Regions from separate parts of the Homo sapiens genome. Here region 2 is linked to region 1. Evidence: fine-mapped expression QTL. A gene starts in region 1. The other region holds a variant in brackets. All regions are shown on one strand. Distances are from middle to middle.

Evidence for each region. PIP is the estimated chance that this variant, and not a neighbour inherited with it, causes the effect.
Region 2: its variant is the best candidate, but not a certain one, in a credible set for the expression of RNF157 in lung (TOPMed, PIP 0.55).

The regions. Positions count from the first base shown.
Region 1 is chr17:76,237,315-76,242,826 of GRCh38, reverse strand. RNF157 (ring finger protein 157) reads left to right here and starts at 2,334. Exons shown (of 19, transcript NM_052916.3): 1 at 2,334-2,674. The coding sequence starts at 2,587. It overlaps LOC105371896 (a long non-coding RNA gene), which reads left to right. Exons shown (of 6, transcript XR_007065913.1): 6 at 1-1,965. RefSeq lists silencers at 2,160-2,229, 2,250-2,389 and an enhancer at 2,694-3,366.
Region 2 is chr17:76,266,126-76,271,240 of GRCh38, reverse strand. UBALD2 (UBA like domain containing 2) reads right to left here. Exons shown (of 3, transcript NM_182565.4): 3 at 1-1,047. The coding sequence ends at 736. Among named protein-coding and RNA genes, the nearest start is that of UBALD2, 3.3 kb to the right of the region's middle. RefSeq lists enhancers at 1-110, 991-1,180, 2,881-3,110, 5,081-5,115. The variant A/G (reference allele first, on the strand shown) is at 2,465.

The DNA of each region.
Region 1 (5,512 bases):
CCGTTTCTAAGGGCTTAAGTCAAAGTTACATAGCTGCTTAGGGGTTTGATTTGTCCAACTCAAAGTCTAGTGCTCTTTCTGTGCCTCATTCTCTTCGACTGTAAAATCGGGGTGTAAATAGCATGTATTTGATAGGGTTGTTGGGAGGGTTGAATGCTTTAATACGTGTGAAGTGTTTAAAACAGCCTGGCACATAGAGTGTTCCATAAATATCCACTAATTTTATTGTGCTATGCCTTGTTTTTCTTTACTATTCTAAGCATTGGACTCATGACTCCTTCGTGGGAGGAGGAACCAACTTCTAGGCTTGGGGAGTATTATTCAAGATGGAGAAGCTGGCTTCCCAGGGTCAGGCCAAGGTGGGACCAGAAGAGACACCCCATAAGCAACAGGACTGGGCTGCTTGACTAAGCCACATCCCTGCCTGGCCCTGGCTAAGCAGAAGAAACTCTCAGACATGGATAAACCCACAAAGGGAAGGGATGTCCCGTTTACAAAATGCCGAGGGCAGGAAGAACCAAGGCTTCTGAACAGAGCCGAGGAGCATAAGGCAACATTTTACTCTGTGATGTGTCGAAGGCCTTGTGTTTTGAGGTGGTTCTAGATTCTTATTTGCATTTTACCTTTACCCAGCAGTTACAAGGTAGGGCCTGTGTGTGCTGAAAGGAGTATGGAGGAGGACACCAGTTCCCTCCCACAGGGATGACTGAAAGCCCTGGAGTAGTTAGGACCAGGGACTCTGCCAGAGAGCTCTGGTGCTTGGGAGAAGCTGCCGGGGCAGGGACTTGCCCTGTAACCCAAGCCTTCGTTAGCAGCAGCCAATATAAATGACAGGGATGTGTTCCCACCATCCTGAGGACCCTGGAGGAAACCAAGGCACTTAGCATCAGGTCTGTTGGCTGCTGCTGAAAAGACGGCAATGAAAAATACGAAATGTGCCGGGCGCGGTGGCTCACGCCTGTAATCCCAGCGCTTTGGGGGGCGGAGGTCAGGAATTGGAGACCAGTCTGGCCAGCATGGTGAAACCCCATCTCTACTAAAAGTAGAAAAATTAGCCGGGTGTGGTGGCACATGCCCGTAGTCTCAGCTACTCGGGAGGCTGAGGCAGGAGAATCCCTTGAACCCAGGAGGCGGAGGTTGCAGTGAGCTGAGATCACGCCACTGCACTCCAGCCTGGGCGACAGAGGGAGACTCCGTCTCAAAACACAGAAAAACAAAAACAAAATATAACCAGGAAAGACCTAGACTCCGTAAAATAGCTTTACAAACCTAATCAAGGGAACCAGACACCCCAAACTGTACTTCGAACACTGTTGAAAAGTTGTGAAAGTCATGTTCTAGCAGTTGAAATGTTTGCTGATCAGTCCACTCTCTCAGGAAAAAAAACACCAGACCCACAAAGAAAATAGAAGGTTTAAAACACAAATGTCTGTAATTAAGCAATGGAATGACGTCTTCCGCCGGCCCAAGCTTCCCACTGTTGTGTGTGTTTTTATCAACAGGAGCTCCCGGTTCTGCCTGGCCCGGTTCGCTTTCGCCTGCGTTGACTCTCTTGGCACTCAGGCCTTTCCAAAGTTTCCGGGGTCCCGTTTCCACGATACAGACAGAGGCTGGATGTCTTGATCTTATCCTCAGTCGATGTTCTCCTAACTTTAGGGCTACAAGGAGCCTTAAACAGCATGTATAGAGTTGGGAGCGCTTTGAATAGACGCACGTGAGAGGGAGGCGGCATCTTCCTAGCCGGTCACCAGCATTAACACGGGGCAGGAGACATGCGAATGCACCGTGGGACCCCTCTCCCTACCCCCCTGCATGAGATTTCCGAAGACCTCCGCCGGCCGACGCTGAGGGGCGGGGTTGGGAAGGCTTCCTCCAGGCGCGGGAGCAGCGGAGCGGGGACCGCCCGCTTTGGGACGCCCAGGACAATGGCGAGCGAGCTCCCGGCCAGTCCTCGCGGACCGCGGGAGGGGGCGGCTCCCTGCGCGGTAATCCGAGCCGGGATAAACAGGCGCGGAGGGGCGACGCGTCCCGGCCGGGTGCAGCGCTCGTCTCCTGGGGTCCCAGCTCCGGCCGGTCCCGCCCCGCCCCGCCGCGGGCACCCGGCCGCGCCCCCGTCCCCGTCGCGAGTCCCCGCCCACGCCCACGCCCCCGCCGCGAGGCCCTGGGCCGCGTCCACGCGCGCCGAGTCCAGCCGCGGCTCCCCGCGCGAGGCACGCGCCGCCGGCTCCTGCTGCAGTCCCGCGCTCATTGGCTGCTCCGGCGCGGGCGCTCCCGCCCCGCCTCGCCATTGGCTGGGGCCGCCGCGGTCCCCGCGCGGAGCGGCCGCTGACATCACGCGGCCTGAGGCGGCGGCGGCGCCCCCGGCCCAGACCCGCAGCCCCCTTGGCAGAGGCGCCGCCGCGGTGCCCGGCGGAGGATGGTGCGCGGCGCGCCGGGGGCTCCCCGCCGCCAGAGCCGCAGCGCCGCAGCGGAGCCGGCCGCGGCGGGCAGTCGGCCCCCGCACCGGGCGCGGGGCGGGCGGCCGCGGTGAAGCGCGGAGGGCGGCGCGGGCACCGGGGCCGGGCCGGGGCTGCAGCCGCAGCGGCCATGGGGGCCCTGACGAGCCGGCAGCACGCGGGCGTGGAGGAGGTGGACATCCCGTCTAATTCCGTGTACCGCTACCCGCCCAAGTCCGGTGAGGGCGGGCGGGCGCCGCAGCCGCGAGGAGGGAGAGGGGCAGGGGCAGGGGTCTGGGTCGGGACGGCCTGAGGGGGCCCCGCGGGTCTTCGGGGACTCAGTGGTTGCGGACGCTCCGAAACGGTCTTCGAGCGCGGGAGGTCTTCGAGAAGGCCGAGGTCTCCCCCGCCCCGGGCGAATTAGCCCAAGGGGCGTCCTGCCGGGTCTAGCAGGGTCACCGAGGGCACCGAGCCCCTCCACGGGAGGACGGGAGCGGCCTCCATTGTAATCGGCCCCGTGACGGGGACGCGTGCCCGCAGGGACCGAGGCTCCTGGGGAGCGGGGCTGCGGCGTCGTAGGCGAGGTCGGCGCCCCGCACGGACCCGGCCGGCCCGGCCCAAAGCCTACCTGCCTCGCGGGGTCCGAGGGCCGCGAGGGAGGCGACCTCGGCATCCAAACAGGCACTTGCGCCAGGTGCTATCCCTGCGCTGCCGTCTCCTGGCCTCTGGAAAGGTTAGAATTAGGTTTCTCCTGGAAAAGCTTCCATTGCCTGCTGAAGGATGGAAGCCAAACAGGCATTTGCAGTGCTGGTGCTTTTGCAGAGGCTGTCAGAAGCCGGGGGGTGGGGGGGGTGGTGGTGGTGGAAAGTAACAGAAATGTTTGGGAATCTGAGTATCAGAGTTACTCGGATTGCCCCTTTGCTAGCGTAGTGGCAAGCCTGGGTTTTGGAGTGGGACCAGCTCTGGGACAGGGCAGAGGTATTGGAAACGTATAGAAGTATGTTTGTTATTAGAATCATCCCTTCACTTAAATGTCTCTAGCCTCTGGATTGTGGTATCAGCATTGGAGGTGGAGGAGGATTTTGACAGCAAAGCAGAGAATCACAAGGTAGTTCAGTTATGTGAGCACCGGCCAGTATGAATTGCATGACCTAGCCGGTGTTTACTTTTAATTGCAAGTAGTTTTATTTTAATTAATTACTTTTAATTTTATTCTCAAGACTTCTGAGGATGAATGGCTGCGACATTCTGTCTGCTTAGGACCCGATGGAGATTTTGGTGATTTCGGAATGAGGTGTCAGAATTGGAGCAGAGCCTCGTCTCTTTTTGGTAGAATAGAGACATACTGAGATGAGCTGGTTTCTCAGCAGTGTGTCCAGTGTCTGCCAGGTGAAAGCAGGGGCCAGACGATGAACCTGCCCGCATCCCTGCAGAGTGTCTGCCAGAGCTGTGTTTCTCACTGCTTTTGTACCAAAGAATGAATCCTTGCAAAGATGAATATGGTGAAGAATTGTTTTAGAAAGGTCTAAGATAAAGCTGTGGGTCGTTAGTATTTTAATAAAGCTCTGACTGATTATGACTACATAAAATCAACGCTAACCAAGGCATAGATTTTGTTTTTTAATAGACAAAAATATTCTTAGGGCGGCATGAGGAAAACTTTTTAAAATAGACAAAAATATGCAGCAGTATTTGTGGGCTCTGTTTTTCTTAAACCACATGGCTTTTATTGATCAAAATATGGAGCATACTTTGCTGAGCTTGGAATTTTCAATAGTGTTTGCTGCCTCAGGAAAGTATTCACCGCTCTTTCATATGTGGGACTTAACATAGGTAAACCTCTGGAAGGCTGTTCCCCAAAGCATATTTGTACAAGTATGAATCTTGGGTGATGATAATAAAAAGACAATAGACCAAACCAAAACTTTTGTTAATTAGCACACTCAATAAATAATCCTCTCCTCTCTACCAGTTTTAAAAGTTTAACTGTAAAACTGTAATTCATGTTAAATCAGAAGTTATACATGAGAGAAGTCTTTATAGCAAGTGGACCACATTATTTCTGTTGAAGCTAAAACATAGAAAATAGAATCAGAACATCCTGTCTCTGTCAGCAAACCTTTGTGTATTTGAAACCTTATGTGAGCTTGCATATATGCTCTAGACGGAGGCATCGCCTTTCTTCTGATCTTTGAATTGACCTGGCTCTTTATGGGATTACAGTATTAGTCCTGAAAGGAACCGTTGACAGAGTTTGGCCATGACCACCATGCCTAGCTAATGTTTAATTTTTTTTTTTTTTTTTTGAGTCATCGTCTCTCTCTGTCACGCCCAGGCTGGAATGAAGTGGTGCAATATTGGCTTACTGCAACCTCTGCCTCTAGGGTTCAAGCAATTCTCCCGCCTCAGTCTCCCAAGTAGCTGGGATTACAGGTGTTTGCCACCACACCCGGCTAATTGTTTGTATTTTTAGTGGAGATGGGGTTTCACCATATTGGCCAGGCAAGTCTTGAACTCCTGACCTCTCAGGTGATCCGCCTGCCTCGGCCTCCCAAAGTGCTGGGATTACGGGTGTGAGCTACCACGCCCAGGCAAGTTTTTTGTAGAGACACTCTCTCACTATGTTGCCCAGGCTGGTCTTGAACTCGTGGTCTCAAGCAATCCTCCCGCCTTGGCCTCCCATTCATTTCACTGATAAGAAAATGGAGACCCAGAGAAATGAATTGGTATGGCCAGGGTCTCTCAGCCAGTTAGTGTTCTTCCTACTATACTGTCTGCCTCCACCTCTCAAGGAATTGGGTTTTGAACTTGTACTCAAAAAACAAGACTTAAAACAATCATTCCATGATTATGGAATGAAGGCTATTTCGTGTCATAATTGAAGTCCCTATAGAGGAATCAACCTGGGTTGATTTTGAGAAGTCTCCTTATCCTGAGTACTAACAGTGGAACAAAGCAAGTGGCAGAGTCAGCTTTCTCCAGATGACATACCTTGTAGTTTGAGTGTTAAGTTGAGACCACTATCTGGCTCGCTGGAAAGCGGCTAGACCTGCACTGCCGGTGGAACAGTTGTTTCG
Region 2 (5,115 bases), 29 kb before region 1:
GATTCTGATTCGGGAACTAAACCCAAAGGCAGGCTCTCCACTTTGGACCTGGACACGCAGCGGGAGGGGCAGGGCGCCCAGGGCAGTCAAGTCCCCTGCTGGGCAGAGCCTGGCCTTTGACCAAAGTCAGCTCCTCAGTGCCACATCAGCCCTGCACATTCAGCAGGAGACAGGGGTGATGAGCTATGGGGCCACAACCAGCAATCAGAGGTGGGGAAGAGGCCATGGGGAGAGAGCCCTGATACCAAGAGGGCCTTCCACAGCTTTGACCTCAGGCCCTCCTGGGACCTGCAGCTGCTATGTGGCTGCCCAGTGACTGCAGGAGTGGTGTCCTCTTCCAGATTCCAGAAGGCATGGCTGTTAAAGGAGGCAGCTGACAGATGCCTTGTGCCCACAACATCACTCCATCAGCTCTGCAGCATGGCAGCCCTACCCCCGAGCACCCCAGGTGTGCCAGGCCCATTCTCACGCACATTAGTTATATTTATCTATTCATATATATTATAGTTATATATTAAAAACAGAGGAAAAACTTGCCTGAAAAACTCCTGAAGGACCCACGTGGCCCAGGAAGTTTACTGTCCCCCCGACCCACAAAAATTCTTTTATAAAATCTTCCAGTGCGATCTTCGGGAAACCCCCTGCCCTCCCCGGCTCCCCCCTCCCTGGCCCTCCTGTGTCCCCACAACCCTGGGCTGCCCCCAGCTCCAGCCCAGCGCCCGGCGGCGTCCAGTCTCATCTCTGGCCGTCCATGGCCGCCATGGCTTTCTGCTGGGCGCCCCCCTGCTGTGCTCCTGGGGGCCACGTGGGCTGTGGGCGGTGGAGGTGGTGGAAGGTGGTGGGGGAGGAGGGCGGGATCCAGGGCGCCTGGTGGCTGGGCGGGGACGAGGCCCAGAAGGGGCTGAAGTTTGCAGGTGGGGAGCAGGCTGCGGCTGTCATGGGGCTGTTGCTGCTCTGCAGGCCCTCGGAGGCGCGGAGCTTGGAGAACATGGCCAGCGCATCGGGGAAGTTGGGCGGCGTGGCAGGGGTGTTGCTGGGAGTGCACATCTGCGGGAGAGAACACGGGTGTGGGGAGGCTGCCTCGGGGGTCCCCGAGCCACTGGATGGGGCTTACCCAGGCCAGCCGCTCCTTTACTCCCATTTTTCAGCTTCATTCATTTTCGCACAAGCAGCTTCCACAGGACAAAAGTGCCCTCTCCCCGAGGCAATACAAACAGAAAACAAGGACAAAACCCAAGAACCTTATCAAAACCAACGGGGTTTCATGAGGCCTGGAAATGACACCCCGAGGAGCATTCAAAGTAAATGGTTAATTGCACCCAGGAGCTAAGGTGTCAGATTAAAGTGAAAGGGCAAGGGGGCAGCCCAGGACACCACTGTTCCGCACCTTCCCTGGGCAGGGAGACCAGCTGACTGCCCCACCAGCCACCCTCAGATGCTCCCAGGCTGCTAGGCAAGGGAGAGCGGCCAGCGGGGAGGCTCTCCCTCCTGTGCCAACCCTGGAAAAGTTAAGCCACCTTGGTGGATGGGTTCACACCACACTAAGGGTGACAGCCACCAGGCCTTGAAGGCTTTGCCTCCCTTAACAATGACACTTAGTGGCTTCAATTATCCTCTCTTTATGACAAATGAGGAAACTGAGGCCCAGAAGTCAAGTCACTTGCCCGAAAATGCACCCACAGCAGAGGGCAAGTTGAGAAGACGGACCTCCCCAGCTCCCAAGTCTGCAGGCCCAAGCTCTTAACATCTACTGGGCCACGCTGCACAGAGTCAAGAGCCCCTTTATATCTGGGCCCCTTGAGGACACAAACCAGGGATTTCAATGTCCTGTGTCTGTAGCCTCAGGCCACAAACACAGCTGGCCTGCCCTTGCCTGCAGGCTGGCAGTTTCTCAGTCTGTCCAGCCCCTCAGTCCTCTTCCTGGGGGTAGCTACAGTCCCCCATCTGCTGTCTTCTGTCACTACCCTGGGGGCAGGGGCTGGAGTGCCATCCAGGAGCACCTCGTCAGCAGCATGGGCAAGAGGCAACACAGAGAACAAGACCACACAAAACTGGCTGGGACCTCAAAGCTGCTTTCTCCCTTTCCCAGGAAGCCACAGGAGTCCTTCTTTGAATTTCTCCTAATTTTAGCAACACTGGCCCCTCCCCCAGGCGCAGGAGTTGGGGGAACGACTTGAGGGCTCTTCACCTTGAAAGAGGGAGCTTTGGCAGGGCGCAGTGGCTCACGTCTGTAATCCCAGCACTTTGGGAGGCCGAGGCGGGTGGATCACCTGAGGTTAGGAGTTCGAGACCAGCCTGACCAACATGGTGAAACCCTGTCTCTATTAAAAAATACAAAAATTAGCTGGGTGTGGTGATGGGCGTCTATAATCCCAGCTACTTGGGAGGTTGAGGCCGGAGAATCACTTGAACCCGGGAGGTGGAGGTTGTAGTGAGCTGAGATCACGTCACTGCACTCCAGCCT[A/G]GGTGGCAGAGCAAAACTCCGTCTCAAAAAAAAAAAAAAAAAAAACAGAGGGAGCTTTCACAGCTAGAAACCGGAGGTTGTGTAGGGGGTGTGTAACATACATGGAATGGGGACACTAGCACACCCTGTCCATTGAGCCCCACACCATGTCAGCACCCAGGGCACCAAGGGAGCTCTGACCCTTGCCTTTCTAGGGGTCCTCAGGGGGAGGCCAAAGGACCCAATGCAGAGGCCTGGCCCCACCCAGACCTTTCCCCTCCTCCCTCCACTACTCCCTGCCCCCCCCCCACCCTCTGGGGATGACTTCTCGGCAGCAGGAAACAATGAATGAAGGGTGGGGGTGGAGGCCAATTGCATCACAGCATCGTGACCGACTTCCCCAGTTCCCCGCCAGCCAGCGAGGCCTGTCTCCTCAAACAGCCGCCAGAGAACAGCAGGGATGATGGCTGGCAGGCCTGTGGTGGCCTGCCTGTGTAAGCTTGGGCAAGTTCCTGAACCTCTCTGGAGCTTCTCTCTGCTTTTGTAAAATGAGGGTTTTGAACCAGATATGCCCTCTCGGCCAGTTCTCAAGAAAACCCATTGTCCCCTGTACCTTTGTCCTCCCACTTCAAGTCTGTAGTGCCTTTCTCCACTTCCAACTGGGAAGCCCTCCTTATCAACTGGGAAGCTTCCAACTATGGGAATCTACAGTAATGTACGGGACAACCATTTATCAGTTACTCATGACTTCTGGTTTTGCCATTTTGCTGTTACTGGTCTCTAGTGTTTCGTTTTTTGATCTTTTTCCTTTGACTTACTTTGTCCAAAATAAATTGCCAGGCCGGGTGCAGTGGCTCACGCCTGTAATCCCTGAACTTTGGGAGGCCGAGGCAGGCGGACCACCTGAGGTTGGGAGTTCGAGACCAGCCTGATCAACATGGAGAAACCCCGTCTCTACTAAAAATACAAAATTAGCCAGGTGTGGGATTACAGGTGGCACGTGCCTGTAATCCCATGAGGCAGGAGAATCGTTTGAACCCAGGAGGTGAAGGTTGCGGTGAGCCGAGATCACACCATTGCACTCCGCCTAGGCAATAAGAGTGAAACTCTGTCTCAAAAAAAAAAAAAAAGAAAAGAAATTGCCAGCTGGGTGCAGTGGCTCACACCTATAATCCCAGCACTTCGGGAGGCTGAGGCGGAAGGATAGCTTGAGGCCAGGAGTTCAAGACCAGCTTGGGCCACATAGAGACTCCCCCTGCCCTGGCCTTTCTCAAAAATAAAATTAGAAAAAAAAAAAAAAAAAAAAAGAAACCATGAACTTTTTGAGAGCAGGGATGGTGTCCTCCACTGTGCTGCTAAGGCACTCAGACTTGGGCACTGATGGACACACTGGTTATGTGTGTTACAAAACCTGCTGCCTTCCTTGAGGGAAGCTTCAAAAGAGACTTAGCATCTCCTTGGGATTTGCAGAGGAGGGGCAATAGGAACTAAACAGGATGCCAGACCAGCTCTTCCTGGGGAGCCTCCCTGTTCTCAGCCCCTCAGAATGGCTGTAGTATCTGGAAGTTCTGAGTTTTTTGGGATGGCCACAGCTGGTGGAAGGAAATCTCAAGGATCCGGTGACAGGAGATGGCAGGAAGCTTCGAGACTCAAGCATAGGCGGGTGCTGGCCATTTCTCCTGGTCAAGTGCAGGGGACGGTGTCCCCTGGAGATGAAACCCTCTTGGGTTTCTAAGAGCCCTGTGGCCAGCACCATGCTCCCATCATACTCAAATGCCATTTTGGCTTGATTTATATACAGCATCAGCCATTCTGAGAAAAACTAGCTAACAAGGTCAAGACAGACCCCTCTACTTGTCCTCTGTGACTAGATGAAAACAGAGAGCCAAAGGCAAGGGCACCAAGTGTTAAAAATCCCAAAAATGCACCTAGAGTCCACAACAGCTCTCCTGGGGAACAATGTTTTAAGATCCCTATCGCTGAGCCCTGCCCCTCCTCCCCCAGCAGGGCTAATAGGTAACTAGGGGGGTAGGGTACAGGAGAGATGTCCTGGGCCTCAAGAAAGCAGAGTACCCCATGGCCAGGAGGGCAAAAGCTTGGGCCTGGGCTAGAATGAAAAAGAAAGCAAATCCAGACCCCGGACCACTTCTCTGTGTGCTGGGCTGGTGGAGCTCAACACAGAGATTAAAGACACATTCCTGGCCTTATCTTGGGTCAAAATCTGTGTGTCCTCCTGGCTTGGGGGATGTATGTCCTTCCAACTTCCCAGTCCCCTTGGGCTTCGGAAGGTTGAACAGATCTTTGTGGGTAGAGCCCGGCTTCCTGAGCCAGGGTGGATTCATGCCTTTCCTGTTCCCTGTAGCGCTGGGTGTGTGTGTGTGTGGAGGGGGAGGGGGGAAACCACTCAACAGCACGAGGGGGTCCCCATAAACACAAGCACCCCCATCGCCCTCCCTGGGCCCTTCGCGCGGGCTTCCCAGTGCCCCAGACGTCCGGGCATCACCCTCTCCCCCTCCCCATCCCCTGGCTCTGGGGTCCCCCAGCTCCTGAGCCCCTCGCCAGGCCCCCGGCCCTCTCCCCCTCCCCCCAACTTTGGCGCCGCTTCCCCCCAGGGACCAGTGCCGGGCACCAGTCCCGAGGCCAAGCAGCAGCAGCCCGGGAGGCGGGCCTCA